Linked DNA regions of Homo sapiens: all the other regions are linked to region 3. The links come from fine-mapping of genetic effects on gene expression. A gene starts in region 3. Each other region holds a variant in brackets. All regions are shown on one strand. Distances are between the middles of the regions.

The links. PIP is the estimated chance that this variant, and not a neighbour inherited with it, causes the effect. A credible set is the group of variants that fine-mapping cannot tell apart.
Region 1: its variant is the best candidate, but not a certain one, in a credible set for the expression of HMGN4 in whole blood (TOPMed, PIP 0.68).
Region 2: its variant is the best candidate, but not a certain one, in a credible set for the expression of HMGN4 in whole blood (TOPMed, PIP 0.53).

The regions. Positions count from the first base shown.
Region 1 is chr6:26,557,336-26,565,518 of GRCh38, reverse strand. No RefSeq gene overlaps it. Among named protein-coding and RNA genes, the nearest start is that of TRK-CTT2-4, 4.9 kb to the right of the region's middle. The variant C/T (reference allele first, on the strand shown) is at 4,045.
Region 2 is chr6:26,478,707-26,486,889 of GRCh38, reverse strand. LOC285819 (a long non-coding RNA gene) reads left to right here and starts at 4,381. Exons shown (of 4, transcript NR_038992.1): 1 at 4,381-4,418; 2 at 7,770-8,183. LOC107986583 (a long non-coding RNA gene) reads left to right here. Exons shown (of 4, transcript XR_001744057.3): 4 at 201-241. The variant C/T (reference allele first, on the strand shown) is at 4,070.
Region 3 is chr6:26,534,724-26,542,906 of GRCh38, reverse strand. It overlaps HMGN4 (high mobility group nucleosomal binding domain 4), which reads right to left and starts at 4,541. Exons shown (of 2, transcript NM_006353.3): 1 at 4,406-4,541. TRR-ACG1-2 (tRNA-Arg (anticodon ACG) 1-2) reads right to left here and starts at 5,409; the gene lies at 5,337-5,409. It overlaps TRV-CAC1-6 (tRNA-Val (anticodon CAC) 1-6), which reads right to left and starts at 4,853; the gene lies at 4,781-4,853. RefSeq lists enhancers at 3,921-4,330, 5,591-6,255, 6,345-6,844 and silencers at 4,821-4,870, 5,264-5,557.

The DNA of each region.
Region 1 (8,183 bases), 23 kb before region 3:
TTGTATACATAGACCCTTTTGAACACAATTTAAAAGTAAATAATGAATTTTGGTAGTAGAAGTTACAGCAACATGGACAGGCTATTTACTCGTATGTATGATGTAATGGAAAGAACACAGAGAGGTATTGGAGCCACTTAGTCCACCTTTGAATCTATGTCTCACTAGTAGTATGACTTCCCTAACTTCCTCATGCCTTATACAAAATGGAGATGATGATAATGAAGGTAATACAGATCCTAAGGGGATAGTTGTGAATATCAAATTAAATAGAATTTGTAACGCACAGTTCTCAGAGTGTGCTGTCCACTGCCTTACTCCCACAGGCTCAAACAGGGGAACCCACAGAGAGTACTTTGAAAGCCTTTTCGCTGGGCCTTATCTTTAGTGAAATTAGAGTATAAAAAATTCAAGAATAACACCATAGGAAGCATACGAGTAATAATGTAATCATTAAAACAAGTCCCAAACAGTACCACAAAAAAAGCTAAGTACACAAGAATTTAGACTATGTAAGAGATCAGATTTGGTTGAGATTAATTAAGGAAAGCCTCCTAGATGGAGTTATAGTCCTTACAGAGGATTTTTTTTTTCGAGACAGGGTCACACTCTGTTGTTGATGCTGGGGTGCAGTGGTCCAGGCTGGGGTGCAGCGGTGGGATCAAAGCTCACTAAAGTCTTGAACTCCTAGGCTCAAGGGATCATCTCCCCTCAGCCACCTGAGCAGCTGGGATTAAGGCACATATCATCATGCCCAGCTAATGGGCTGGTTTATTTTGTTTTTGTATTTTTGTAGAGACTCAGTATGTTGAGTCATAGGTCTCACTATGTTGCCCATGCTTAGTTAGGAATTTTGAAGAAGCGATTGATCAGAATCACTTTTTTTTTTCCCCTGAGACGGAGTCTTGCTCAGTCACCCAGACTGGAGTGGTGCAGTGGCCCGATCTTGGCTCACTGCAACCTCCGCCTCCCAGGTTCAAGCAATTCTTCTGCCTCAGCCTCCCTAGTAGCTGGGATTACAAGCGCCCGCCACCGCGCCCAGCTAATTTTTGTATTTTTAGTAGAGACAGGGTTTCACCATGTTGGCCAGGCTGGTCTCAAACTCCTGACCTCGTGATCAACCCGCCTCAGCCTCCCAAAGTGCTGGGATTACAGGCGTGAGCCACCACTGGGGAATATGGCAAAACCCCGTCTCTACAAAAAATACAAAAGTTAGCTGGGCGTGGTGGCACGTGCCTACAGCTCCAGCTACTCAGGAGGCTGAGATGGGAGGATCACTAGAGCCTGGTGTTAATGGTGGTAATGGTGGAGGGTGTCCAGGTTCTTGGCGTCTTGAACAAAGAACTGGACAAAACGCACAAACAGAGCAAGGAAAGAATGAAGGGTTTTATTGAAAACGAAAGTATACTCCACAGTGTGGGAGTGGGGCTGAGCACAGGAGCTCAAAGGCCCCGTTACAGAGTTTTTGTGAGTTTAAATATCATCTACTTGGGGTACGCCCTATGTAAATGAAGAGGATGAATTAAAGTTACAAAGTAATTTACTCCGTGTATGCCCTATGGAGAGGATATTTCCTGTTATAGCTGAAGTGTGAGTTGGCCTTATGTTCCTTGACTCCAGGCCCTATTTTTCTGCCTCACTGGGAAGTCGAGGCTGCAGTGAGCTGAGATCGCGCCACTGTACTCCAGCCTGGGCAACAGAGGGAGACCCTGTGTCATAAATAAATAAATAGGAAGAAAGCTGAGTGAGATAGCCTGTTTTTTGATTATCCCCAATTCTCCCAGCTACATTACCTTTCATACTGTCCTCCAAAATAATGTAGTGACGTTTTCTTGGAAAGCTTATTACAACATGGCTGTTCCAGACCTATCCCCACTCCTGGTCTTGCCTCACAGAGTAACCCTAATGAGATAGGGCAGGATATCCTTCCACTCCCTGTCAAGATCTCGTCCTGTACTTGTCTAATAGGTGTCAGTGAGAGGTATCCGTTTTCTGACCTCTTTTATATTACTGTTTTTCCTTTCTGAAGTCTCCTTAGAGTCTATTGTTTCTGCATTTAACATTGGTATACTTTCACGTGATAATGCATGCCCCTAGAAGGGTGCCTACTTTTCACAGGGCAGCAGGAGAGAGACTGAGAACCAAGTGAAGGAAGAAGCCCCTTATAAAAACCGTTAGATCTGGTGAGAACTTACCATGAAGAGAATAGCGTGGGGGCAACCGCCCCCATGATTTCATTACCTCCTACTGGGTCCCTCCCATGACACACGGAGATTTTGGGAACTACAATTCAAAATGAGATTTAGGTGGGGAAACAGCCACACCATATCACACCATATCACCAGCTTTATAAACGGTTAAGAGGGACCTGAGGGTAAGGCTTATCAGATGAAGGGCTAGTATTCTCACTGCCTGATTATTACAGCAATCACAATATTGTAAACACACACAAAAATGGGCATCGTACTCCCAGAATGTTGGTTTTTTCCCTACCTCAAGATGATTTTATAAAAGTCTTCATAATCCAGTTCTTGGTTCATAAACACAGTAATTCAGAAGCCACTTTAGTCTTCCTGGTCTCTAAAATGTATATCGCTTTTCTTAGATTAATTATAAATTAATTAATTGATTGTCATGCCCACATCTTAGGTGATTCTGATGTCACTTGAAGCATTTTAGAATTACCAGTGTGAATTTTAAAAGTACAAGATTGTTAATAAACTATTATTTATCTGTAAGTAGTCTTGTGAACTTTTATGGCATTAGATGTGTCTTTAACCAGTTCTTCCAGTCTTTTCTGTTATTTCCTGGTTGTTTGCCTGTCACAATTAATAATTTACATTTGAAAAGAACCATATTTTCTAAATACATTTTTGCTAAATGTTAGTTCCTTGAGTATCAATAGTTCCTTGAGATGTTAATAGATGTTATTTGGTTAAAAAAAAAAAAGAGCATTGACTCCATTCTCTTTACCAGGCCTACTTTAAGCAATGAGCTGTAAATTTCAGAACATTAGAAGATAGATCAGTCGAGATTTTTCTTCATTTTATTTTCCTTCTATGAATAATTAAATATTAGCTGTGTTTTCAGCTCTCAGCTGGTAAGAACTTTGCCTTTTTTAGATGTTGTTGTCCTCTTTCAGTTAACACATATTCCATTACCCTGCCAAACCTCACCAATATTAAGTAATTATTTATTAGCATATAGTGCATACAAGATGCTGCCACTGTACATGCTTTAATACCTAGTTTCTCAAATTTCGCAACAATCCCAATCCAATTTACTGAGCCATTTTCTTTTCTTTCTTTGTTTTTTCTTTTTCTTTTTTTTTCTTGAGATGGTCTGGCTCTGTTCCCAGATTGGAGTGAAAGAGGAGACCACTCCTCATATTGTCTTATATTTAATTTCTTGTTTGCTGAAAAGGTAGAAGTTAAAAGAATAGGCAGAAGTGAAATTCATAGTCAGACAGCCCGGCGCCGCGCCTCGGGCCTGGTAGTTAAAATTCAACCCCTGAACTCACCACTTTTGGTATCTATAGATTCTAGACATTGCATGAAGAAGCATTGTGAAACTCCCTGTTCTGTTCTGTTTCGTTCTGATTACTGATGCAGGCAGCCCCCAGTCGTGTACCCCTCGCTTGCTCAATCGATCATAACCCCCACTTCATGCAGCCCCTTTAGAGTTGTGAGCCCTTAAAAAGGATAGGAATTACTTATTCGGAGAGCTCGGTTTCTAGGACGCGAGTCTGCCGATGCTCCCAGCTGAATAAAGCTCTTTCCTTCCCCAATCCAGTGTCTGAGGGATTTTGTCCATGACTCCTCCTGCTACAGGAGTGCTGTGGCATGAACATGGCTCACTGCAAGCTCTGCCTCCTTGGGCTTAAACCATCCTCCTACTCAGCCTCCCGAGTAGCTGGGAGTACAGGCACCTGCCACCACGCCTGGCTAATTACTGTATTTTTTGTAGAGACTGGGTTTCAACATGTTGGCCAGGCTGGTCTTGGCTTCCCAAAGTGCTATGATTACAGGAATGAGCCACAGCGCC[C/T]AGCCTGAGCCATTTTCAAACCCAGTATGTTCAGCCCCTTAATGTGAATCATTAGCTAGGAACTTGCCTTGCTGTATAATCTCATCCATACACAAATTTTACATGACTTTTGACATCTGAAGAAGCTCTTTGGATTAAAACAGAAATAATAAATGAGGACATGTTCTTAGGCTTGTCCCTAAAATAAACTCTTGACTAAACTTTCTTCCTTTACAAAAGAATACAAGACAATGTTTTGGGATTCTCAGAAATGACAAAAGGGACACAATTATCACAGTTTTTAGTTGTGTCATGTTTTTTATGTTGCTCTTGAAGGAGGTTATTTTCGCCCTATAGGGTTTTTACCATGAAAAGTTTTAAATTTACAAAAAGGAGTTGAAATAATATTGCAGTGAACAATATATACACTCCACAATCAACAATTGCTAGTATTTGCCATACTCGCTTTAAATCAATCTTTCTTTCTTGTGTATGGACACACACAGCATGTACATTTCTTTTGCTGAGCTGTTTGAAAATAAGTGACAGATGTGATGACTTTACCATTTAAACACTTCAGCAAGCACTCCTACATGTAAGAGCATTCTACACATCACAAAATTATTATTACTCCTAGGAAAAGTATCAGTAATTTCATTGTGTCTAATAACTGGCTTATGACCCAATTTCTCTAGTTATCCCAAGAATATATTTATGTATTTATTTTTTTGAACTAGAATTCAGTATAGAGTCACTCATTACATGTGACTGTAATGTCTTTAGTCTCTTAATATTTTTATAACATTGACTTTTTAAAGACCATTTGATTCATAGTTTTGTTGCATTTGATCCTCTATGTTCTATAAATTAGAAGGTATGTCTAGAAACTTGATTCAATTCAACTTAAAATATTTTTGGCAAAAGGATTTCGTAGATGTTGCTGGCATTTCATATTGTAATACATTAGACGGCCCAAATATTTTCAATTTTCATTTTAGATTGCTTTTAAGTCGATATTTAAAATCATGTATACATACAAGGCTAATTTTTTTTTTTTTGAGACGGAGTCTCACTCTGTCACCCAGGCTGGAGTGCAGTGGTGCGATTTCGGCTCCCTGCAACCTCTGCCTCCTGGGTTCAAGCGATTCTTGTGCCTCAGCCTCCCAAGTAGCTAGGATTAAAGGTGCGAGCCACCGAACCCAGTTAATTTTTGTATTTTTGGTACAGATGAGGTTTTGCTATGTTGGTCTTGAACTCCTGACCTCAGGTGATACACCTGCCTTAGCCTCTCAAAGTGCTGGGATTACAGGCATGAGCCATCATGCCCGGCAGGCTAATTTTTTTTTTTTTTTTGACAGAGTTTCGCTCTTGTTGTTCAGGCTAAAGTGCAGTGGCACGATCTCGGCTAACTGCAACTTCTGCCTCCTGGGTTCAAATGATTCTCCTGCCTTAGTTTCCCAAGTAACTGGGACTACAGGCACCCACCACCTCACCCTGCTAATTTTTGTATTTTTAGTAGAGATGGGGTTTCACTATGTTGGCCAGGCTAGTCTCGAACTCCTGACCTCAGGTGATCCACCCGCTTCGGCCTCCTAAAGTGCTGGGATTACAGGCATGAGCCACCACGCCTGGCCCCACTAACATTTTTTGATGCTATTTCTAGCACTCAAACCCTAGAATTATTTACAGAAGCATAAAGCAATGCACAATGTTTTATCCTTTTTTATTTAATTTTTTTTTTTTTTTTTTTTTTTTGAGACGGAGTCTCGCTCTGTCGCCCAGGCGGGACTGCAGTGGCGCGATCTCGGCTCACTGCAAGCTCCGCCTCCCGGGTTCACGCCATTCTCCTGCCTCAGCCCCCGAGTAGCTGGGACTACAGGCGCCCGCCACCACGCCTGGCTAATTTTTTTGTATTTTTAGTAGAGACGGGGTTTCACCGTGTTAGCCAGATGGTCTCGATCTCCTGACCTCGTGATCCGCACGCCTAGGCCTCCCAAAGTGCTGGGATTACAAGCGTGAGCCACTGCGCCCGGCCTATTTAATTTTTTTGAGACAGGGTCTTGCTCTGTCACCCAGGCTGGAGTGTAGTGGCTCCGTCACAGCTCACTGCAGCCTCAACCTCCTGAGCTCAAGCGATCCTCCCACCTCAGCCTCCCAAGTAGCTGGGACTACAGGTGTGCACCACCACACCCAGCTAATTTTTGTATTTATTGAAAAAGAATTTTTTTTTTTAAATACAGAGACAGGGTCTCGTTATGTTGCCCAGGCTGGTCTTGAACTCCCAGCCTCAAGCAGTCCTCCTGCCTTGACCTCCTAAAGTGCTAGAATTACAGGCATGAGCCATTGCACCTGGCTGCATCTTCATTTCCTATTGCCAGACAATTAAAATATAGCTGTGGATGTAATTTTTGTTAAATCAGTCACATTCACCCAGTAGGTATATGGCAATTTTCTTTTTTATTTATTTTTTCTTGCAGTGCTCTATACATTCAGAGAACCTTCTCTAGTAACAAAGCATAGAAACGATCACTGAAAGTAGTCTTGATGGCAACTTTCTGGAAGGCAGGGACTATATCATCTTCATATTTTTATTAAATGTCCAGCAATGAAAAGGTGCTTAATAAAAATGTGTTTGTCAATTGTTTTGAAAGACACTGTATCTTTTATAAAGTAGACTTAGAGAACAGTCAAGTCTCAGTGTACTCAAGAAAAGTTACTGTGGTCAAATTCATCCATTTTGTGTTAACTCATAATTCTCAGTTTCATGGTGTATATACCAACAATACACCCAAATCCTAGGGAGTCCATCTAGTTAGTTAGTTAGTTTATTTATTTATTTAGAGACAGGGTCTTGCTCTGTCACCCAGGCTGGAGTGTAGTGGTGCAATCATGGCTCACTGTAACCTCCACCACCTCGGTTCAAGCGATCCTCCCTCCTCAGCCTCCCCAGTAGCTGGAACTTGACGTGAGCACCACCACATCCAACTAATTTTTGTATTTTTTGTAGAGATGGGGTTTTGCCATGTTGGCCAGGCTGGTCTCGAACTCCTGAGCTCAAGTGATCCACTCAGCTTGGCCTCCCAAAGTGCTGGGATTACAGGCGTGAACCACTGTGACTGGCCCCGTCCAGTTTAATACTCATGATTTCCTGTGCCCAACTGTAAGTGCCATTTATCTAAGTAGATAAAATATAGAATCATTTTAAAACTGGATATAACATATCACATGGAGCAAGTGATAAATTACTGATAATATTTAGGTTACTGAGTAAAGAAAAAAGGGCCTGTGGTGCCTTATGCCTGTAATCCCAGCATTTTGGGAGGACGAGGGGGGAGGATTCCTTGAGCCAGGGATTTGAGACCAGGCTGGGCAACATAGGGAGATCTACAAAAAAAAAGAAGAAGAAGAAGAAAGGAAGGGTTGGATGGCAGAGGACAGACAGTGGTAATTTGTCACTGTGTCTCCAGTGTGCTCAGAGGTGAGCATTCTTTCAATGCAATATCCATATTCTGGGGCTCCTTACAGATGATGTGGGCTGCAGACCTGATATATCAAGTCTTCACAGTGATATAACTCTTGTTGTCATTGAACCCCTTTTGCTCTGATTATATAGTAGAGAACATTTCATGTGAATTCAGTCTTTCCAAGTTTGAGGGCAATTTTTAAAAAATACACTGGGCCACTTAACACTTTATTCATTGGTATCGATGTATAAGGTTGGTGTTCTGACCTTAAAGTTATCCTTGACTATTCTTCTCGCTCCCATTCAAATCTACCAGGAAATCTTACTGATTCAGCCTTCCAGATAGACCCACTTCTCCTCTTCCCCTGTTAGCACTCTGATCTTTCTTATTACTTTTTGTTACCAGGAGCCTCTTAATTGGTTTTCTTGTTTCTATCATTGTGCCCTTAAGGTCTTTTCTCAACACAGCAGTTAGAATTATCTTCTTAAAAGGTAAGTTAGATTCTGTTACTCTTCTGCTCAGAATCTTCACAGACTTCCCATCTCTCAGTTAAATCTAAAGTCCTTACAAGCCCAGAAGGCTCCATATCTTTTTGACTTCCTCCCCGCCATTCTTCTCTCATACTGCTGCAGCCACTGGGAATGGCAGGAAAACATGTAACATCAAGTTTCTCAACCCAAAAAGCTAATACCTTAC
Region 2 (8,183 bases), 56 kb after region 3:
TTGTACCACAGCACTCAAGCCTGGGCAAGAACGAGACTCTGTCTCAAAGAAAAAAATAAAATAAAATAAAATAAATAAACTGTCTCACAGGGTTGTCATGAGAACTCTAAAAGAGTGAATAGAAACATTCTATAACTTAAACACACATGCACACACAAATTCATTTTAAAAAGTCCTCAGGTTTAACTCTCTTTGTACAGATGAAGAAACAGAGACACCATGAAGATAAGACTGATATGGTTTGGATCTGTGTCCCCACTCAAATCTCATCTTTAATTTTAATCCCCATGTGTTGAAGAAGGGACGTGACGGGAGGTGATTGGATCATGGGGGCAGTTTCCACCATGCTGTTCTCGTGATAGTGAATGAGTTCTTACGAGATCTGATGGTTTAAAAGTGTGACACTTTCCCTCTCACCCCTCCCTCTCTCTCTCCTGCTGCCTTGTGAAGAAGGTGCTTGCTTTTCCTTCACCTTTTGCCACAACTGTAAGTTTCCCGAGGCCTCACAGCCATGCAGAACTGTGAGTCAATTAAATCTCTTTTATTTATAAATTACCCAGTCTCAAATAGTTCTTTATAGCAATGTGAAAATGGTCTAATAAAATGACTTTTTAAAAATACAACCAGCGAGACCACGGCTGAATTTCTCTCTTCCTGAAACTTAGTGTTGTACCCTTTCTTTAAACAAAACTGTTCAAAGAGTATCAGCAATACCAGAAATAAATGAAAAAAGCATACAACTCCTCTAGAGCTGCAGCCATAAAAGACCGGTTTTTATACTTTCCTATTAAATATTTCCAGATCTGACTACTGCATTAATGATGGTTTTGACCAACATTGATAAGTTTATTTTTTTAAAACATTTTTTTTCCAGGTCATTATTACAAAAATGCATTATTGAATTGGTTTGAATCCAAAACACTACCCTTGAAGCCATCACTTTAGATGCCCGGCTCACTTTTAGTCCCCTCCAGCTACTGAGGATGAACCTAATGATAGCCCGGGTTCACTACTTACTTGCTTGCCAGTAAGCTCAAACTCAGGTCATGGGTAACCATGCCTACAGCCTTAGTTATTCTAGGATCACCTGAACCAAGTCAGCTTATCATGAGTTTGTTCTCCTGGAAACTTAGAGTACAATATTCCTTCATCCCAGTTCTAGGCCTGGAGATTTCCAGCGTGGACTGGAAATCTTTGAGGTTGGGTGGAAATGGGCTGTCAACTCCTGGGCCTCATAGCTGTCATGGTGGGATTTAATCAGGCTCACAGCTGTTTCCCTCTCCCAGCTTTCTATCCACTTCTGTCTCTGACCTTCATTTGTGGTTTCCTCTTCTCCTTAGGAGGCCCCGTAGTTCTCTCTCTGTCTCTCTCTCTCTCCCCCCACCCCCCCCCCATATATATAGAGAGAGGACTGTAAGTCCAAGCGTACAGTGTCAATCAAGCATTAGGTTGAATGTGCCACCCTGATGTTAAAGCAAGTGGTTTACAACATGTCATTTTCTCACACTTTTCTCCTTGGTTGACAACCCTGTGGCAGCAATAGTTTCCCTGAGACGGGACTTCGCCCTATGGTTATAAGCTAATGAGCTACTAAGGCAACAGTTTAATCGGGAAGAGAGGTGGGTTTGGGGCCTAAAATGGGTGTCAATGGGGCAACTGGAAGAGGTCCTTTTATGTGACCAGAGGGAAGAGCTCATTTACCACCAGGCATGGGGTAGAGTGTGCTGTGCTGTGGTAGTCAAGATGGCCAGGCCCTCTCTACATGACTCTGAGACCAGGAATTTGGTGGTGGTGGCAGTGGGTCCCCATCCTGTGAAGGATGAGGCCACACAGAGCCTCAAGATCAGCTAGAGTGAGAACTTAGGGCCTTCTCAGGTCTTTCCAGAGCACACACACAGCCCTGGGCATGTGCACAACCCTATGTATATGTGTGGACTTCTAGAATCCAAGAAATACGTCAGAGATTTTCAAAGCCCTCTGTATATATTTCACTCCTCAGCCTTTCCTATTAAGCTTTTTAGTTATTGTTTGCTCCAATGATTACCCACCATCTCAGACAGCTGTGATGTTAAACAATTGTCACTGGTTATTGTCAACAAATGCTCCCAGAGAAAACCCTGTTCACACTTGGTGAGCTTTGCGTCAGATCAAATAAGGACAAAGCTTGCAAGTGACGTCTTCTGGGTGCTGAGTTTCAGGACACACCATCCAAAAATATGAGTGCAGGAGACCAGAATATGCCATCTCAAAATATGCCACCCTGGCATACTGATCTTTTTGAGCTAAAAGAAATTAAAGACCAGCCAACATAGAAAAATCTCCTTGCCTTCCCCTCAACTGTCTGAAATGAATTATAAAACACCCCTTTTGTAAAGAAAAATTTACATCTATAAAAGAAATTTTTACTAGTAGAGGTATTTATACCAGGAAGAGAACTGCTTTGAGACAAGTTTTACCACTTGGGGAACTTTTATCTGTAACAAGGTAACCTTTACTCACCATACATTTTCTTCTCTCACCATCCCATAATTTGTCTCCATCGTTTCCCAGAAGCCCTGACTTCCTCCTTTCTGTAGCTCAGGATGCTATATTAACTTCAATCATCCGGCCCTTCTTTGAGTCTCATATTTTGAGATTTGAGGGACTCCTGTACATATGCATGTAATTAAAATGGTTTTTCTCCTATTAATCTGTTTTAGATAAATTTAATTAATAGCCTAGCCAAATAACCTAGAGGGGTAAAGAGAAGCAGATTTTTCCCTCCCCTACACAAGGAACAACCAGGCATGTCTAGTAATGACAATTCTCTAGGAATGGGGTTTTGAAGGAGCCCCAACCCCTTTCTATTCCCTCCAGTGACTGTCAGGCGCTGTTTTTCACTGTGATTGTGGGGTGGTTTCTAGGCTACTGCAGAGCTGTGGTGGGGTGGTGGTAGTGTAATAGGACATGTTAAAATGCCTATAAAACGTACTGTTCTTACTGAGGTTCAGCCATTTTTCTTGAATAAAATTCACTCTGATTGCTGCAAGCCTTAGGTTAATTTACAGAGTTCTGAGAAAGTTGATTCTGGCAATTTTTTTTTTTTTTGAGATGGAGTTTCACTCTTGTTGCCCAGGCTAGAGTGCAAGGGCACGATCTTGGCTCACTGCAACTTCTGCCTCCTGGGTTCAAGAGATTCTCCTGCCTCAGCCTCCTGAGTGGCTGGGATTACAGGCATGCACCACAATGCCTGGCTAATTTTGTATTTTTAGTAGAGATGGGGTTTCTCCATGTTGGTCAGGCTGGTCTCGAAATCCCAACCTCAGTTGATTCGCCCGCCTTGGCCTCCCAGAGTGCAGGGGATTACAGGCGTGACCCACTGCACCTGGCCTTTTCTGCCAATCTTTGCCAGTGTTTACTGCTTTTATGGAGGGAGGGATTTTCAGAAGTCCTCACTTAACCATTCTCACTGACTTCTCTACGTGTGTGTGTGCGTGCATGCACACGTGTTTAATGTCTAAAAATATAATTTGAAAATAACTTGTGCTTTAAAACCTCAGCCTTTTCCTCCCAGGGTAGATTTGGTTATCTTAGAGCAGCAATTCTCAGATGTTTTGGTCTCATGACCTTCTTATACTCTTGAAAATAATTGAGAATCCCAGAGAGTTTTTATTTATGTGAGTTATATCTATCAACACTTAGCATTTAAAAATTAAAACTGGGCTGGGTGTGGTGGTGCACATCTGTAACTCCAGCACGTTGGGAGGCCAAGGTGGGTGGATCGCTTGAGCTCAGGAGTTCGAGACAAGCCTGGGCAACATAGTGAGACCTTGTCTCTACAAAAAAATACAAAAATTAGCTATGTGTGGTGGCATGCACCTGTAATTTCAGCTACGTGGGAGGCTGAGGCAGGAACATCACTTGAGCCTGGGAGGTGAAGGTTGCAGTGAGTCTAGATGGCACCACTACTCTCCAGCCTAGGCGAATGATTGAGACCCTGTCTCAAATAAATAAATAAAACAGGTTTTTTTTTTTTTTTTAAATGAGAGTCTCGCTCTGTTGCCCTGGCTGGAGTGTAGTGGTACAATCT[C/T]GGCTCACTGCAACCTCCGCCTCCCAAATTCAAGTGATTCTCCTGCCTCAGTTTCCTAGTAGCTGGGATTACAGGCATGCACCACCATGTCTGGCTAATTTTTTTATTTTTCATAGAGACAAGGTTTCACCATGTTGGCCAGGTCTGACTCCTGGGCTCAAGTGATCGGCTTGCCTCGGCCTCCCTGAGTGCTGGGATTACAGGTGTGAGCCACCATGCCCGGCCCTTAAAACACAGCATTTTAAACACAATAATACACATTGTGACATACATTCCAATAGGTGTCAGAGGGATGATGTCATCATGTCTTCAACATCTGGAAAACTCCAATGCACACATGTGAGAGTATGTGAGTAAAAGAGGCAAATAACTTAAAAAAAATTTATTTATTTATTTTTAAAAATAGAGATGGGGGTCTCACTATGTTGTCCAGGCTGGTCTTGAATTCCTGGGCTCAAGTGATCCTCTCGCTTCTTTTTTTTTTGAAACAGAGTTCTCACTCTGTCACCCAAGCTGGAGTGTAGAGGCGTGATCATGGCTCACTGCATCCTCGACTTCCGAGGCTCAGGTGATCCTCCCACATCAGCCTCCTGAGTAGCTGGGACTACAGGAACTCACCACCATGCCCAGATAATTTTATGTATTTTTTGTAGAGATCAGGGTTTCACCATGTTGCCCAGGCAGGTCTCAAACTTCTGGCATCAAGTGATCTGCCTGCCTTGGTCTCCCAAAGCGTTGGGATTACAGGCATGAGCCACCATGCCCAGCCACAAATAACATTTTAGTATCATTATAAACATTGTCTTGGCCAGGTGCGGTGGCTCACACCTGTAATCTCAGCACTTTGGGAGGCAGAGATGGGTGGATCACCTGAGGTCAGGAGTTTGAGACCAGCTTGACCAATATGGTGAAACTCCATCTCTACTAAAAATATAAAAATTAGGCAGGAGTGGTGGCTACTCGGGAAGCTGAGACAGGAGAATAGCTTGAACCCAGGAGGCAGAGGTTGCAGTGAGCTGAGATCGTACCACTGCACTCCAGCCTGGGTGACAGAGTGAGACTCCATCTCAAAAAAAAAAAAAAAAAAAAGTCTTCACCTCATGGATCCCCTGAAAGAATCTTAGGGTCAGACCACACTTTTAAGAATCCCTGTCTTTGGTGGTTCCAGAGAAATAGACTATAGGACATCCACTGGAGAGCCCCGCAGCATCAATACCTTGAGGAAGTTAAGGAAAGAGGATAGACAGAAGGAAAAGTTGAAATATAATGCAGTCTCACAATGAACTCTGGAACTGGGGTGACCCTTCAGAGTTGTGTACCTTGTGCAAGGGGTCCAGGACCTTTACACCTATGTTTTCCAGTCATTGGATGTGGTCCACTCACTGAGAGGTGGAATAACCTTGGGCAACAGGGCTCTCTTTGGCTCTTTAACAATTCATGGTATGGAGTCAGCTGAGGGCCCTGAGCCACCAACACTCTCTGCAGCTGGTTGATTGTGTGTCTCAGTCCAACACGGAGTGACCAGGGCAGGGCACCACAGCATCCACCTCAGTGGGGAAATGAGAATGGAGTTGGACAGTTTGTGTGGAAGGGGGCAGGCAGAGAGAAGAAAAGGTTTTGGTGCTGGAAATAGTATAAAATGAAGGAGGAAGGAATATTTCTCTTTGTTTCTCAGGTACAGCTTTCAGTTCTATCCAAAGTTGGCCCCTGAGTTCATGTGAGAGAAATCACGTTATTTCTCTCCCTCTGCATAAGAAATCCTTGAACCAATGGGGACATGCTCATGGATTTCCCTAGAGAACTTTCTGACAACTCTGGCTCCAGATTAGTTTAATCTGTTCTCATTCCCATTTGTAGTTCAGTCATTTTACTGCATGAATAGCTGGGAGACTGGTTTACTTGCAGCTCAGTCACTTACTATGTGTTTTTAACTAAATACTTTCACTTTTCTTGGCCTCAACTTCCTCATCTCTAAAAAAAAACAAAAACAAAAACAAAAAAACGATGCTTGAAATTCTGGAACCAAGCATTTATGGGATTTTAGAGAAAATAAAGTATGTGTTCTGCAATAACCCAACATATTATTTTCCTGGAAAAAAAAAACAACAAACACCTTGAATTCTGCAAAATCATGCAACAAAAACACCAGGGCTTACAAAAAAATAGAGTTGGGCTTAGACAACTAAAAACCCATGCAGGTTTGTTTCCAAAACACTAATAAAGCCAACCAATCAGCAGCACCCATTCCCTAATGCCCACCAAATTGTCCATAAAAACCCTTAAAAAGAGAAAAAAAGAACACTAATAAAAACATCAATGATAGTAATACTTTTAGCACAGTTACCCAAACTCCTAATAACTAAACGTGTTTAATAGTAAATGTAGGGCTTTACCTGAAGGTAGGTGAATGTAGCTTAATAGAAAGAAGTATACTGGCTGGGTGTGGTGGCTCACACCTGTAATCCCAGCAGTTTGGGAGGCCGAGGCAGGCGGATCACCTGAGGTCGGGAGTTTGAGACCAGCCTGACTAACATGGAGAAACCCCGTCTCTACTAAAAATACAAAATTAGCCAAGCATGGTGGCACATGCCTGCAATCCCAGCTACTCGGGAGGCTGAGGCAGGAAAATCGCTTGAATCTGGGAGGCAGAGATTGCGATGAGTTGAGAACACACCATTGCACTCTAGCCTGGGCAACAAGAGCAAAACTCCATCTCAAAAAGAAGTATACCAAAAAGATGAGTTTGCTGAATTTGGGAACAAAGCAATGGTGGGCTAATAAATCGTATGCAGGAAGAAATGCCTTGTTTAGTATTGTTTGGCAATTTCTGTGGTGTAAATACTCCTACTATGAGTGATTTTTGCTCACTACTTTCCTGAAAATTTAACAATCACCTCTCCTAAACTGGTGCAAGCTGGCTGGCTCTAGGACACCAACAGGAGTAAGGGCTAACATTGTGACAACAGGCTAAAGGTGGAGAAGTTGTCATCTTTGTACAAAATGTGATCTACAAAGCTATGGTCTTGTGTTTCTTTTAAGCCAAAAGGAAAACCATGGGGCAAAAAGGCATTACATATGCTAGTGCATTTCTCTGTGGTTTTCTGAGCTTAGCTACTGGTGTATTTTGTACTCAAATAACTCTTCCTCAATGGCATAACACATTAATTTGGGAGAAAATTGAGTATGAGTAAAAGGAACACCGACATTATAATGCTGTCATAATTCCAGGATTAACAAAAAGCACATGAGCTAATTCCTATTACAGAAACACAATCTGTAGGTAGAAGAGGTTTTGTATATGTGAAGGGTGGGCTGGGGATGGGCTGTGTGAAAGATGGTGACTAATTTGACAGCATGTCTGTCGGAGTGGTGTAGCCCAGGGATGTTAGGCTAAATCGGCCTGGGGAGCAGGAAGCTGAGCTTTCATAGAGATGATGCATTGCAAAAAGATTCCTGAAAATGCCTCTAAAATGGAGGGTTGCTAAATCCACAGGGGAAGAGATCAGAGAACTTCTTGGACACAATGAAGTGAAGTTACATTGAGATCTAAGCAAGGGTTGGACAGGCAGACGATGGAGGGATCAGGGTTGGATATCAGTTACACAGATCACTGTGGAGTTCTGCTCAGAATCTCTTCAACACTGTCACTCTTGAGCTCCTCCTCATCTCTGCATCTCCCGACCCCTTGTCTTTCTGTTAGCACGATATGGAGACTCAAAAGAAGAAGTGCTGGATTTTGCTGCTCTGTTGGACACAGAACCATAAACTTGAGAATGCAAGTTCTTGAAATTCCAAGGCAACTTCCTAATTTCACTGTCAGCTGGGTTTCATGTCATCTTCTGCTAACACAACTGTTTCTGTGTTTCCTCTGTGTACCTTTCTTGGACTTCAGCTTGGGGTGTTTTCTTTCCCAGTAATGATTTTTTTTTCCTTTTTTTCTTTTTACATGCATAACACAGAGAATACCCCTCCACATCAACCCTGTTCTCAACATCAAGATATTTCCTCTCACACTCCTAAGTCACTCAGTCTCAATCCTTTATATGCCCTCAGACTTATTCCCAAACTCCCAGAACCTGTTTTCAGAGATAAGGCAGCAATAAAAGCACATTAA
Region 3 (8,183 bases):
TTTTCCTGGGTTCAGTCTTCTTCGAGTTAGATCCATTGAAGTCCATCCGAAGTAGGGGGGCCATGATCTCCACATGTCAAAGGCCAAAATACAGCAGGTGACAAAATAAAATCAGGAAAAATAGGCCACTGCCTGGATGCTGTATCTGAGTATATAAATACGGATTTAATTCTTGAAACTCACCTTTAGGAAGCTGATTAGGAGACCAGGTCACTGACTCTCTAGAGACCTTACAAATGTGGGAGACAGATACACACATAATGAAAAGGGACCAGAGAGATGGGTAAAAGCTCTTACCATTTCCATAAAGGACAAGGAGGTTGGAAAAGGAAGGAGCTCTCACCACACAGTGGTTTTAACTCAGAAGAAATTATTTGAGGTGGCGCAGAAGAGATTTTTAGGTAAATGAAACTCTTTTGTATGCTACTGTAATGGCATATATTATAAAATGGTAGATGTTATGCACTTGACAAAACCCACAGAACTTCATACAGTGAGTGAACCCTGATGTAAACTATATATTTTAGTTAATAATAAGCTATCAATATTAGTTCATCATTTGTAACAAATGTACCACACCAGTGTAAGTTGTTAATAACTTAGGAGAAACTGAGGTGGGGGAAAGGAAGTATGTGGGAACTCTGTATCTTCTGCTCAATTTTCTGTAAACCAAAAATTGCTCTGAAAAAAGGAAGTCTATTAATGTAAAAAAAAAATACGCATTTTAAGAGTTCAAAAAAATAATGTTAATGATAAAATATAAAAGTCATTACAAATACTCCTTCATGCATGTGGAAGAAAAGAAAAATTATTAACTGGCAGATAAATCTTACTAGTAATTGTACAACTTTTGGAAACATAGAGAAATGACTTTCAATGGTATCATCAGGGCAAGAAATTATCAAGACAGATACTGAAGTTATTTTCCCAAGACATGGCAACAATTTTAAAAGTTTTAGAAATATAACAGTTCCCCTTTGTTAAAATAACTCTTCCAATAACATTATATTACAAACAACAGAGCAAGTTAGTGAAAGTTTTGAATCACTCGTCTTCATTGCACAGAACTGGACTGAAATTCTCATGAAAGCTCTCAATTTAACTCCTCATTTAACCAGATTGCTGTAGGGGAGAAGAAACATCTGCTTCATCCTTCTTCCAATCCTTTTGTTAGCATGAAGACTTGCATTTTTATCATTAGAAGAAGATCATGATGTTTAAATTAACTGGCAAAAATAGCTTTAAAAAAAAAACTAATAGTGAAATAAAAAGCAAAATAGGGTATTATGGGTGGGCCCTAATTCAATATTACTGGTGTACTTATAGGAAGAGGAGATTAGGATACAGACAACATAGAGGAACACATCTAAGGATGTAGTGGGAGGTGGCCATCTGCAAGCCAAGGAGAGGCCTCAGAAGAAACCAAACCTGCCGACATCTTGATCTTGGACTTCTATCCTCCAGAAGTCAAAGAAAATTAATTTTTGTTGTTTAAGTCACTCAGCCTGTGGTACCTTGTTTCGGCAGCCCTAGCGGACTAACATAGGAGGGAACAGTGTAAGAATTTAGTGACTCAGGCAGGGCGTGGTGGCTCACGCCTGTAATCCCAGAACTTTGGGAGGCCAAGGTGGTCAGAAGTTCGAGACCAGCCTGGCCAACATGGTGAAACCCTATCTCTACTAAAAATACAAAATTAGCCATGGGTGGTGGTGCGTGCCTGTAATCCCAGCTACTAAGGATGCTGAGGCAGGAGAATTGCTTGAACCCGGGAGGCAGAGGTTGCAGTGAGCCGAGATTGCGCCACTGCACTCCAGCCTGGGCAATAGAGTGAGATTCTGTTTCAAAAAAAAAGGAATGTAATGACTAGGGAAACATCTTGGATTAGATTAATTTGGGGGTCTCACCCAGCTCTCAAAATATATTTTTCCATGTTTTTTCTCTTTCATAGCAAGCAAATCCATGGACCAAAATGCCACCTCATTCAATACTCATTTTCACCTCATCCCTAGCAAACACAAGGCACATTTTAGCAGCATCTTTTTGATCACTCGATGGATACGGAACTGGGTTTCTGGGAGGTAGTTCTAACTTGGGTTTTAGCCTCAATCCCACCCCGAAATCAGAAGGTTCCCCTCTCCCTCCCTGCCTCTTACTTAAGGAGAGATCGTGTTTGGGGGTTGGAGGGAAGATCTGGAAGAAAGTTAAGAACACCAAGCTTAGGAAGGAGAGAATAAAGGATATAATTAAAATACAATAAAAAATGCACAGGCAAATGCTGGGCGTGGTGGCTCACGCCTGTAATCCCAGCACTTTGGGAGGTGGAGGCAGGTGGATCACTTGAGGTCAGGAGTTCAAGACCAGCCTGGCCAACATGGTGAAACCCATTTCTACTAAAAATACAAAAATTAGCTGGGTGTGGTGGCATATGCCTATAGTCCCAACTACTTGGGAAGCTGAGGCAGGAGAATCACTTGAGCCTGGGAGGCGGAGGTTGCAGTGAGCCAAGATTGTGCCACTGCACTCCAGCCTGGGTGACAGAGCAAGACCCGGTCTCAAAAAAAAAAGAAAAAAAAAAAAAGATTCACAGGCAAGATGCAGTGTGCTACAGAAGCAAGAGGTCACATGGTGTCAGTCACTCTCCAGGGCGTTTGTTCTTCATCTTCCAAAGTATTAGAGACGCAGCATGAGTTTCCACGGAGGTTAAGTGAGAGAGACTGGGAGATGCAGGGGTAGAAAGGAAAGATGAGAAAACGCAGGGTGTCTAAAAGGGTAGGTTTGCTGCTGCAGCTTGCCAGAATGCATCTGCTTTAAAGAGAAGGAGTGAGCCATAAGCTCCCAAACAGTCACCCATCTGTAAAGGTTGGTTAGGGGCACACTCACCTTCCAGGCTAAAGTATTCCTGCTAACTGGGATCGGAGAAAGATGAAGAGGATAAATCCTTGTCATCTCCTAGGACCCTGGAACCTTTGCCCCCTTTCTGGGCACCATAATAACTTGCTTATATTTCTGAGTAGTACAGAGGGGATTTTAAATGAAAATGTATTAGACAGGTTGCTGTTGAGCACATGCCCAAGTTTATTGTCTTGCTAACCAAGATATTATCTTGCTAGCCAAGGTGTTGTCTTGTTAAGGGAACCAGCAAGATGACAAAAGAATGGACCTTTCAAGTCAACGTCTACCCAAGCAGCCTGTTTAAGAAAATGATAAAAAGAAAACAGCTCATTAACATTGTCCTTTTCTTTCTTTTCTTTTCTTTTTTTTTTTTTTTTTTTAATTTTGCGGACCCACCAAAGAATGCAGCCCTTCTTTTCTCATGGTCATAAAAATATCACATTCGGTTGGGCGCGGTGGCTCATGCCTGTAATCTCAGCACTTTGGGAGGCCGAGGCGGGCGGATCACTTGAGGTCAGGAGTTTGAGACCAGCCTGGCCAATATGGTGAAACTCCGTCTCCAACTAAAAATACAAAAATTATCCGGGTGTAGTGTTACACACCTGTAGTCCCAGCTGCTCGGGAGCCTGAGGCACAAGAATCGAGGTGGAGGTTGCAGTGAGCGAGATCGCACCATTGCACCCCAGCCTGGACAACAGAGTGAGACTCCGTCTCAAAAACAAACAAACAAAAACAAACACATCACATTCTTATTAGTCATTTGAGGGAACCTGGAGCAATATGATCTGAGAGGCTAGGCTTGGCTAATCCCTAGAAAAAGTAGTAATACATCTAAGAAAGAAATCCCTCTTAGGGAACACCCGAGGCTGCCAGGTGACACAACAAAACTTTCTCATAAAAGCGTTTGATTAATCCGATTAACTTGTAAGCAAGCCATGTGGCAGAGGTAAGAGGCCAAACACCAAGGCACCAGTCCTGATTCTAAACAAGTGCTGGTCCATTTCTTAACTTTGGGATCCATTTTTTCTTTGTGATGGAATAGCAAAAGGTCAAAGTGGAGGAGGACTCAGCCCTTGGGTGTCTCCTCAACGAGGGTTTCTCGAAGGTAAATTGGGGAGGAAGGGAGAGCCCACGGCAGGTCAGTCCAACCTGCCAGTCACCACCTCTTTAAGGCCACAGCCCTGCGGGAGCAATCCTTTCAAATCCCCTTCCTTCCTTCTTTTAGAACGCCCCTAGAACGCCGATTAGGACTTCTCATCCCGGTCGGGCCTGCGGCTCTCTGTGACCCCACCTCTGGATTCAGCTTTTCCCAGGGATTCACACTCGGAGCTCAGGAGAGATGCTGCGATTACTCTGGAGACGGGAAGACAGGCGGGGCTGACGGGGCCCAAGGCCCCTAATCATGACCGGGGCCAGCTGGCAGGAGGGTCCTAAGTATACGGAGGGCGGCGGGACCCCCCCCACCACGCCCCTCATTTTCCGGGGTAGCGCACAAAGTCTGTGAGGCACTTACCCGAGTCTCGTGGCCGTCCGAGGGGCGCGGGAATCCCAGCTGAGGCCCGTGACGCGCCGGAGCCCTAGGCGTGGGCAGGGCCAGCACCAGCCCTAAGACAGAGAAGACGAGCGGAGCCCGGCTCCGCCAGGAACAGGAAGGCGAGGGAAGGTGAGGATGCGCTTCCGGGGCTGCAGGCGGGGAGCCGCCCCGAGTCCAAGCCGGAGAGAGCTGGTTCTCCCCCTGGCGATACGTGTGTGAGCCTCTGAGGCCCGCCCTAAGCACTGCTGCCCCGATCTAGCAAGACAAGAAGACAGGAAATTTATGACAGCCTGAAAAAGTCTTTAAAAGATACACACTGGAAGAATTTCGTAGTAAGATGAGGAAAAAAAAACGTGTTTCCGCCCGGTTTCGAACCGGGGACCTTTCGCGTGTGAGGCGAACGTGATAACCACTACACTACGGAAACCCACTAAGGGCTTATTTTTCAGAGTAAATAGTTCTTCCTGCCTAGTTCCGTGTTTCTTCGTTCCAAGTGCGTGTTTTGCTGATGTGCGCGTGCGTCTCTGTACCGACCTCTCAAACCAGAAAAACCAATGAAAAGCTCAGACCCAGCCCCTCCAGTGTTCAAACTGAAGCCATAGAATTTATTCTACAAATGACTGAATAGGGAAGAACACAATAGAGACTTTAATTTAATCTCTGAACGGTCCTTCGTTCTTCGGCCAAAATGGCCAGGCAAGGCTGGGCACAACTTGGGTAGGGCGAGCGTTTCTCTGGCGTAGTTGGCGTTACCACGTGGTCAGTGGCAGAATGCTCCGCAAAGAAATGATAACCCCATATGTTGTCGGGAGCTGCCCCTCTTGCTTCTGAGTCTTCCAGGCAAATTTATCTTGCAGGAATTTCCTTACTCCTGCGGAGTCAGAAAGTTGTAAAACGACCCTGCTTACACCGAGCCAGCCAGGAGTCGAACCTGGAATCTTCTGATCCGTAGTCAGACGCGTTATCCATTGCGCCACTGGCCCTGCGCGTACCTTAGGGGCGAGGTATTTCATAAGAAACTAGGTTGTACCCGTAATATCTGGGTGAACGCCTGTAAGCCGCGTTTGCCCGCTGGTCCAGGCTCGCAGCGCATGGACTCTCTGGTAGCTACTTCTGCACACGCCCCGTGGCCTTCATTCCTTTCTCGGTCTGTCTCTGCCGGCTGAAAAATGGCGGTGAAAAGCAAGCCCTGCATCCTCTCTGCCCCAATATCACCGCTCCATTAATGCGTTCGTTCATTCAACCAGTATTAGTGTTCAAGGCACTGCAGATAACGGTGAAGAAAACATGAGAGACCCTTGCCCTCAAGATTACATGGCAGTGGCGGAAGCGGATAATAAAGCATTAAATAAACAAAATAATAGTGATAAGCGATTGGAGAAAAATAATAATAAAACAGGGAAAGAGGATAGGAAAGGCCAGCAGTGAAAGTGATGAATGAGGGATAAATGCTGATATCGGGGAAATGAGTGATCTGGAACAGGGAAAAATCGCTAGGGAAAAGGCCTGGAGGTGGAAGCAGGCTTGGGAGTTATGTTGAGGAGGCCGGTGCTCAGTGGAGAGGAATAGGAGATCCTGGGAGACCACCTCCAGCTTTATAGGCCCTTGTAAGGACTCTGGCCAGCTTTACAGGCTCTTGTAAGGACTCTGGCTGGTATTCTGTAGGAAACTGGAAGCCGTTGTACGGTGACGTGGTCTGAGTTTTCATTTGTCTCTCTGTGGGTCTTTTTTTTTTTTTCTTCAAATATTTTACTAAGCGAAACTGTGCTAGGCCTCCTCACTGCATGCTGCTTCTACTGCAGGGCCTTGATCTCAGAATTTGACAGCTTTATAAGGAGCATCATCAACCCGGACACTCATATGAATGTTCACTTTTTCACTTTGAAAGCAAACAAACGTCTCATATGTGTGTGTTTTAGTTTGTCCATATTTCTGAGAATAAATCATCCCCATGCCTGGTGAGCATTTTAAATAAGATGAGGTCTACTAAACAGAAGTAAAACTGCCTGATATTGAGAATATACACTTTGAGATTAGAAAATATTTGTTTTCAGTTCATAAGGTTTCAACAGCCGTTACAAAAAATATTCTGCTCTTTCTGCATAAATATTAAGGTAGACCTAGGTTATGGATTACTCCCTAGGCAATAGCATAGGGATCTTCTCGTTAGGTTTTGTACTATGGACCCCAAGGGCAGCTTGGTGATTCTGGACTCTATCTCAGAATAATACTTTTAAATACACGAAAGAAAAGATAAATATGTAAGATTTCAAAAGAAAACTAATTATGTTAAAATAGGTTACCAAAACTTTTTTTTTTTTTTTTTTGGAGACAGAATTTTGCTCTTATTGCCCAGGCTGGAGTGCAATGGCGCGATCTCGGCTCACCGCAACCTCTGCCTCCCGGGTTCAAGCGATTCTCCTGCCTCAGCCTCTCAAGTAGCTGGGATTACAGGCATGCTCCACCACGCCCGGCTAATTTTGTATTTTTAGTAGAGACGGGGTTTCTCCATGCTGGTCAGGCTAGAGCATCCCTGGAAGTCACAGGTCCCACCTAGCACCTTAAAAATGAGCTTTAACCCAGCTGGCTGTAGGCTCTGTCCACATTCAGTCTCCTTAGTGTTTGTCTATAAAAATTTATCTGTGTTTTGCAGGCTTTGAAGACCTCCCTTGGGTGCCTCAAATTTCTTAGCCATATTCACTACAATAAATGCTTTCAGCTGGGCGTGGTGGCTCACGCCTGTAATCCCAGCGCTTTGGGAGGCCGAGGTGGGCGGATCACGAGGTAAGGAAATCGAGACCAGCCTGCCCAACATGGTAAAACCCCGTCTCTACTAAAAATACAAAAAATTAGCCGGACGTGGGTCCCAGCTACTCGGGAAGCTGAGGCAGGAGAATTACTTGAACCCGGGAGGCGGAGGTTGCAGTGAGCCGAGATCGCGCCCATTGCACTCCAGCCCAGGCAATAAGAGCAAAACTCTGTCTCAAAAAAAAAAAAAAAGAAATGCTTTTGCTTTGCTCTTGGAAATCTTTCTACATCTTTTCTGACAGTTCCAGTTTCAACTTCCAGTCTTTTCTTCAGCATATATCGGAGAAAGAGTCCAGATATATAAATCTAGATATATATCTATATATATCTAGGGTGAGGACTGGCAAGTCTGAAACCTGTAGGGTTGTAGGGCAGGCTGGAAACTCTCAGGCAGAAGCTGATGCTGAAGTCTTGAAACAGAATTTCTTCTTCCTTAGGGAGGCCTTTGTTTTGCTCTCAAAGCCTTTTAACTGATTGGATAAGGCCCATCTACATAAGGGAGAATCTTTTTTTAAGGTTAACTGATTGTTAACCACATTTACAAGATAACTTCACAGAAACATGTAGGTTAGTGTTTAATTGAATAACTGGGTAGCCTAAGTTGACACATACAACTATGACAGTGGTGGACTCTTCTCTGTGTTTCAGTGCAGTTTTTTTTAGTTTCACTCCCAGGCACATGGAAAACTACACCATCTGCCACTCTCACATTGTTTTACATGACTGTCGGCAGTCTGTGACACAGCCACCTGCATCCTCTCCAATTTCAGACGTGTGGAGCGGAGCCAATGTGAGGGTTCCATGGTTCCTAATCACAGTCGGAACTGAATAGAAGATATGGTTCACACCAAGAGTTCTGTAAATGATTGCTCAAAGTCTCAATTTGCTTCCAAGGCTCATCTCTGGCTAAACAATTCCTTTGACATTCTAGAAATTCTGTGCAAACTTC